Linked DNA regions of Homo sapiens. The protein of the gene in region 1 purifies or fractionates together with the protein of each later gene. This does not show direct contact. Each region holds a gene or a part of one and is shown on either strand. Other genes may lie near its edges.

Region 1 (3,500 bases):
GAGCCCAGGGTAGTAAGTCCAGCCCCAGGACTGAGATTAAGTGTGGAGCTTTAGGTCTGAAGTTTTCATCTGCCTTCCAGAATCTGGGGTCTCAAGTCTGGGTCCCATGGTCTAGAGTCTGCAGCTGGACATGGAATCTAAGGCATGAAGTGGGGCCAGGCCTCAGCCCCAGGGCCCAGAATCCTGGAGCTGATGTCGGAGCTGAAGCCTCAAGTCGGGGACCTGGGCCTCAGGGCGGGGGTCCCTGAGCTTGCTTACGGGCCAAGAATCAGGTCTGGGGCCCTGGATCTGGCCCGTGGACAGGGGCTGGTGTCGCTGGTGCTTGGTTTCTGTGTGGCTTGGGGGTTCCAGGTAAGGTCCAGGGCTGGGCCTGTGTGTGAGGTCCTCAATTTGCAGCCAGGGTCGGGGGTTGGGTGGATAGTCTGAGGTCTGTGGGTCTCAGGATGAAGTTCTGAATCTGGGTTCCTAAGCTTCAAGCCTGGGGTCTTAGCTCTGAGTTTGGATCCCTTTGTCCTTGGGTGTGGGGAGCCCGTCCAGGTGTGGGTCTGGGGTCCCACTGGTTGCTGGCCCCTCACCAGGTGGTCAATGGTGCTGAGTGTGTGGTTGGCGTGCAGCAGCGCAGAGCTGAGCTGGGACACCCCATCACTGGTCTCACTGTTGCCATAGAAACCGATGCCAATGCCAGTGCTGAGCGGAGGAGGAGGGAGAGGAATCTCAGCGGGTCCCAGGACCCCGGGGGCCACCGTCCCCTCCCACCCCATCCCCTCCACCTCGCCTTCTTATCCACCCCTCCCATCTCAGCCCCACCTCATTGGGCCAGCCCGTGGGAAAAGGGCGACTTCAGCCTGGCCCCCGTCGGTTGCCAAGGGAACGGGAAGGCCTCACTCCCCCAGCGGAGGGACGTCATTGTGATGTTAATGGTGGGTGGAGTGGTGGGGGGGAGGGAGCCCCCGATTTAACTCGCACCTCCCTGGAGCAGAACCCCAGTCACACCCAGCTCCGGGATGGGCCGTCTTCCCCTCCCTAGGACTGCCTGCCCCACACCCTTCCCCCGCATCCTTTGCCAGGCAGGCAGCCCTCCTGGCACCTGTCCTAGGGTGCCCTAGGGTCCTTGGGGCCTGCAGTGCCAACCCTTCAGTGCTGAGACGTTCTCCGCCCCCACCTCCTGGGGGTTCCTAAGGGTACAAGGGGGGCAGCTGCCACCATCTCCTGGGGGGACGCTGAGCCTGGAGCTCTCGGCCTTCCCCCACCCGGGACCCAAGCGTCGGGCCAGCTGGGAGGGAAGTAAGGGAATGTGGGAGGGAGGCTGGAGGATGGGCGAGAAGCCGTGCCCCCGCCCCCACCCTACCGACACACAGAGCTCCATTGTGGGACCTGAATGTGGGGCCCCAGACCCCTCCCGTCCCCGCCCCCGGCCGGTGTCCCGCAGTGGAGGGGGCGGGAGCCTGACACCCTCCCGGTTCCCAGCCCCGGCTGGGCCTCCACCCCCATCCCTCGGGTCGGACGCCCAGTGTCCCCGCCCCATTGTTCAGAGTCCTACAAAGCTCCTCTTGTTCCCAGGCTGCGGGGGCTGGGGCCGTGTCTCTCCCCCACTGGGCCTTTGTCCACCTCCCCTGTCTCCCCCCACGCCAGAGAGCCGGAGGAGGAAGCGTCCTGAATACAGGCCACCCCTACAGGTCCCTCCCCTTGCCCGCTGTGGGTCCGGGGCAGGCGTCTGGCCCTCTGGGACCCCCCGTCTGTGGAAGAGGATTGCTGTCTGCAACCTGTGGGTGCTGCCCTGCCGGGGAGGGGGCTGTGCTCAGAGCTCGTTCTTGGTAGCTGGTGTGTTCACATTGGAAGCCCCCTAAGCTCGCTTTGAGGGGTGTGAGGGGGTCCTACTAACCTGGGTCTGAATCTCTGTGCTGCCTCTTAAGCCACGTGGCCTTGAAAGGTGACCTCCCCTCTGTCCCTGAGCCTTCCTCTTTGGAAACTGGGCCTGACACCCCTGAATCCAGCAGCATTATTGTGAGAAGGAATTAGACCAGCTCAGGTCTGGGCACAGATGAGGTGCTCTTGGAGGGTGATTATATCTATTTATCGTCCGTCTCCCTGATTAGAACATAAGCTGCACGAGGGGCTCCTTGCCTGGCTTGGTCAGTATCTGGCACATAGTAAATACTCAATAAACAGTTGTCGAATGAATGAGCTGGTGAATGACGGAATGACAGACATCACCAGTTAATGTTGGCTGAGAGTAGCTGCAAGTCAGACACTGTGCTTTCTCTCCATCTTACCCCCGCAGGAGGTGGGCGAGATGATAATGCCCAGTTTACAGATGTGGAAATTGAGGCCCAGGGAGACTATCACTCCCTTAGGTCACACAGCTATTCAATGGGAGAGCCACCAAAACCAGGCCATCTGACTGCCCCTGCGCCTTCTCACCAGATGGCTGCCCTTGATTCACTTCCTCTCCAGAGCCTCACTTTCTCCATCCATCAAATGGGACAGTCCTTCCTGCTGTGCGCTGAAGTGGGCTTGCAAATGGCAGGGACAGGGACGAGGGAGTTTCCTCCTTCCTGTCTGCTTCCTCCATGTCCCCGGAGGACACCCCCAGGAAGGCCAGCAAAGAGCTTGGGGAGCCCTGTCCCCACCGCCCACCCACCCTGGGGCCCCATTACCAGCCGGCGAGAAGGGCGACAATGCAGCTCCAGGTGACGCAGCCTCCCCCGGGCGAGGGGATCTTGGACCCGGGGGGCTCGGGGGGCCGGCAGCAGCAGAAGCGGATGAGGTAGACAGCGATGAAAATGAGGCTCAGGCCCAAGCCCAGGCCCGCCAAGGCCGCCACCAGCAACAAGGCCTGGGGAAGGGGGTGACATCAGACCTCCGAGGGCACCCGTGTGTTCCACACTCAGATCCCCCTTCCTGCGTGGCTGGGGGGTCGGGGTCTGGGATGTCAGAGTGAAGGTGGGAGACATCCCTGGCCTAATCTTGGGGGAGATTGGGTCCCAGCCCCTCCCAGGCTGGCAGCTGGGGCTCCAGGTGTCAGGGCCAGCTTGCTGGAGGGAGCTTCCAACTGGGGGCCCCAAGCCTTGGGTCCCAATTCTGCTCTGCCCTCCATTGGCTGTGCAATCTTTAGCAGGAACCGCCCCTTCTCCGAGCCTGGGTTTCCTTCTCTCTGCAGCCAGCAGTTGGAATGGAGGTTTTCCCAAGGACCTGCCAAGGCCCCTCCACAATCGTGTGGGATCAGGGGGCGGGTGGGGGTGTGGGGGCACCTGTTCCTGGTGCCTCGGGCCAGGCTGGGGGAGGCGTGCTTCCTCCCCCTCTCCTCCCTGCTCACTGTCTCCCCTGCTGCTGAGCGCTACACCCCACAGCGCCTGAGCTTGTCACCCAGGGACGGGACGAGGGGCTGTGTGGCAACGTGTGTGTGTGTGTGTATGCAAGACTCAGAAATGGAAACTGGAAGAGTGAAGACAGAACAGAAAGAGAGAGAGAGAGAGATGGAGGGAGGCACAGGCAGAAAG
Region 2 (3,500 bases), on another chromosome or scaffold:
TGGCTCATTGCAACTTCCGCCTCACAGGTTCAAGCGATTCTTGTACCTCAGCCTCCTGAGTAGCTGGGGCCACAGACGTGCACCACCACACCCAGCTAATTTTTGTATTTTTAATGGAGACGGGGTTTCACCATGTTGGCCATGCTGGTCTCGACCTCCTGACCTCAGGTGATCTGCCTGCCTCGGCCTCCCAAAATGCTGGGATTACAGGTGTGAGCCACCGCACCCAGCCATTATGTTCACATTGAAAGCAACTTCAAGTATAAAGTTATTATTTTTCATGGAACATTTATTAATAGTACCTAAACTGAGATAATTTTGAATTTTCCAACAGACCATTTTTTGGGCCATCTCTCTACCTGTCATTCTTTTAAATCTTTAACTTTGCTGATCGAGCTAACCACCCAGAAATGAGAGTTAGTTGCCACAGTAGTGCTCAGCAGGGCAACAGGCCTCTTTCATGATACTGCTTTCAAAGGCCTCTTGTGTTTTTGCACTGGGCCACTTCTTTTGATAGTTGTTCCTCTACTGCTGTGACTTGCAAGTCCTGTACTGGTGGAGTAGATGAACCAGGTCAGCATTTCTTACCTGGCACAAGGCTGTTTCCTTTTATCTTGCAGATCTGTAGTGCCCACTTTTTCATTTAATACAGTTGATGTTTCACGCTTAACTCTTTTGCCCATGAAGTCTTTTTACCTCTTCTATTTTCTATACTTGCTTGTTTTTCTTACTGATGTTACTTGTATTTCAAGGTTAGAGTCCAGGAAAATTAGTTTCAGTTGTTCTTTTGATGAACAGAAAGCCAATCACAAAGCAGCAGCATGTTTCTTGGTTGGGAATTTCAGGCATGTGTCCTTTTCCCTGTTTACCTCCAGGAATCCTTAGCCTCTGGAGAGAAGCTTCTATATGTCATTTGACTGTAGGACTCTGAGCTTCTTACTGATTTTAAGCACAAGTAGTTGTTTTGTGTGTAGAAGAGCAACTCATCTTTGTGAGCCTATCACAAAACAAAGGTACCTCTGTACTTCTAAAGAAATTGCTCTAAAATATTTGCTCTTTTCTAGTTTGTAGTATAATCTTGATTTCTATCAGAAATCAAATTGTAAAGTTAGACTGCATATTCAAGTTGCCATTCTACTTCCTGTGAGGCCAGCCAGCTTTTTGTCTGATATAACCACTAGTCCTCTTCCTGACCACCGAGAGGAACTTTCACAGGGCCACCCAGAAATGAGTTTGTTGCCAAGTCCTGTTGCAGGGTGGGTGTTAGTGGGAGTAGCAAGGAGCTTGACTGAACTATGGCATGACTTCCACACAAATTTTTGTCTTTATTTAGAGAATGGCAATTTAAAAGAAAAAGATATACTTGTTTTGCCCCTTGACCTGACCGACACTGGTTCCCATGAAGCGGCTACCAAAGCTGTTCTCCAGGAGTTTGGTAGAGTAAGTAGCATCTTATATTGATATAGTCTTGCTTTGAAGTAACTGCAGAAGAGATTCCCATCCGTGGTGCTGTCATACAAAGGGCTTTAGGCAAGTGGGGTCCATGCAGTGAGATCGGGCCCATGAGTTGGGCCCCTTAATCTCTGAGCCTTTGTCATTATGGAATTAGTACTTTTCATGTCTTAACAAGTACAAATTCCTCCATGTAGAACAAAAGAAGCTAAAAATTCACGGCTGCTTTTATTTATTTATTTATGTATTTTGAGACAAAGTCTTGCTCTGTCGCCCAGGCTGGAGTGCAGTGGTGTGATATCGGTTCACTGCAATCTCCGCCTCCCAGGTTTAAGGGATTCTCCTGCCTCAGCCTCCTGAGTAGCTGGGATTACAGGCATGCACCATCACGCCCAGCTAATTTTTATATTTTTTAGTAGAGATGGGGTTTCACCATGTTGGTCAGGCTGGTCTTGAACTCCTGACCTCATGGTCCACCCTCCTCAGCCTCCCAAAGTGCAGGGATTACAGGCTACTGTGCCCAGCTGGCTGCTTTTATTTATTTTAATGACAATTATTAACTTTCACAAAAAGTCACCTAAAACGGGAATTTAATTCCACAGGTAAATTCAGGGCTTTATTTTATCTTTTTAATTGCTGACTTCTGGAAATATACCATTGTTCCATTGATTCTTTAAGTTAACAAAATAACCAACCATCCATAGGAATTCCATCAATCTATCCACAAGACATCCCCCAAACACCCCTTTTCTGATTTTATTTAACTAGATCGACATTCTGGTCAACAATGGTGGAATGTCCCAGCGTTCTCTGTGCATGGATACCAGCTTGGATGTCTACAGAAAGCTAATAGAGCTTAACTACTTAGGGACGGTGTCCTTGACAAAATGTGTTCTGCCTCACATGATCGAGAGGAAGCAAGGAAAGATTGTTACTGTGAATAGCATCCTGGGTATCATATCTGTACCTCTTTCCATTGGATACTGTGCTAGCAAGCATGCTCTCCGGGTAAGGCTGCTCAAACTCAACTCTGATAGAACTGACTTAAATGTGTATATGGGGGATATGGCCATCACTGTGTGAGGTCCTTGGAACTGGAAGTGATGTGGGGAGACAGAGAGACCCAAGGAGACTTTTGGTAGAGGACACCCCCAGTAGATGCTAAAAAAGACTTGATCCACACATGCCTCTAACTTGTTGAACAAATAAATATGTATCAAGCACTGCATTGTGCCATGTACTACAACAGACCCTGGGGATATAAAGATAATAAGATGTGGTCTCTGCCCTCAAAAAGTGTATCATCTATTTAACATGTTACTCTTCACCTTATCCTTATTCCTACTAAATCTTCATGGAAAATTGGGGGTCCACTTCTCCTTTCTTCTACATACACTTCAGGATGTACTTTTTCCTCCCCATTTCTGTGACTTCTTTTCCTTGCCCCTTGTAGTTGGTGTTTATTTTGCCTGGTCTAATTATATATGCATGTCAGAAATAGGTACTTCCCACAGGATGATTAGTCCTGGTCTCATATCCTTACTGGGAAAAATCTTGACTGTATTCTCTCTGGTTTCATTGGAAGAAGAAAATCTAGTCAAGGCAGAGGCAAGGAGAGAAGCTTGATTTGGACTGCATAACTTACGATGTATAAATATTAGAAATGGATGAATTTTTAATGGTGGCTTAAGACTGGATATAAAGAAATTATAAGGCCAATAGGAAAAGAATGATTAAGGAAGACACAAAATTTATATTTAAAGCTGTTGAAGTCAGTTTAAGTAGAATGTTTCACTGTTGGAATCATGAGATGCAATAGCTACATGGTCATCATGGTTTCATGAAAATTTGAAGCTTTGGTTCTTTAGGACATCTTTTTTCTGCTGCAAAGTGCAGACAATTGCAGACAGTGATGAAGCGGAATGCTATACTGATGATTTCCTCATATTTAGTAACAGGCATCAGTCACTTCCTGTGGAGCAGTTGGGCAAGCCTCAGGCAGGCAGATGAGGGAGGGCGGCCACCCATCTGTTTGGCACCACGTGTCT

What was found.
Region 2: the proteins of TTYH1 (region 1) and DHRS7 purify together in Homo sapiens (affinity purification with mass spectrometry; one large-scale study listed by BioGRID and IntAct). This does not show direct contact.

The regions. Positions count from the first base shown.
Region 1 is NC_000019.10:54,418,464-54,421,963, reverse strand, and holds part of TTYH1 (protein tweety homolog 1), read right to left. Parts: exon of another isoform or gene 3,247-3,500; intron 2,837-3,246; coding exon 2,658-2,836; intron 688-2,657; coding exon 576-687; intron 1-575. UniProt on the Homo sapiens protein: Calcium-independent, swelling-dependent volume-regulated anion channel (VRAC-swell) which plays a pivotal role in the process of regulatory volume decrease (RVD) in the brain through the efflux of anions like chloride and organic osmolytes like glutamate.
Region 2 is NC_000014.9:60,151,899-60,155,398, reverse strand, and holds part of DHRS7 (dehydrogenase/reductase SDR family member 7 isoform 1 precursor), read left to right. Parts: intron 1-1,333; coding exon 1,334-1,440; exon of another isoform or gene 1,441-1,447; intron 1,448-2,220; coding exon 2,221-2,460; intron 2,461-3,500. UniProt on the Homo sapiens protein: NADPH-dependent oxidoreductase which catalyzes the reduction of a variety of compounds bearing carbonyl groups including steroids, retinoids and xenobiotics.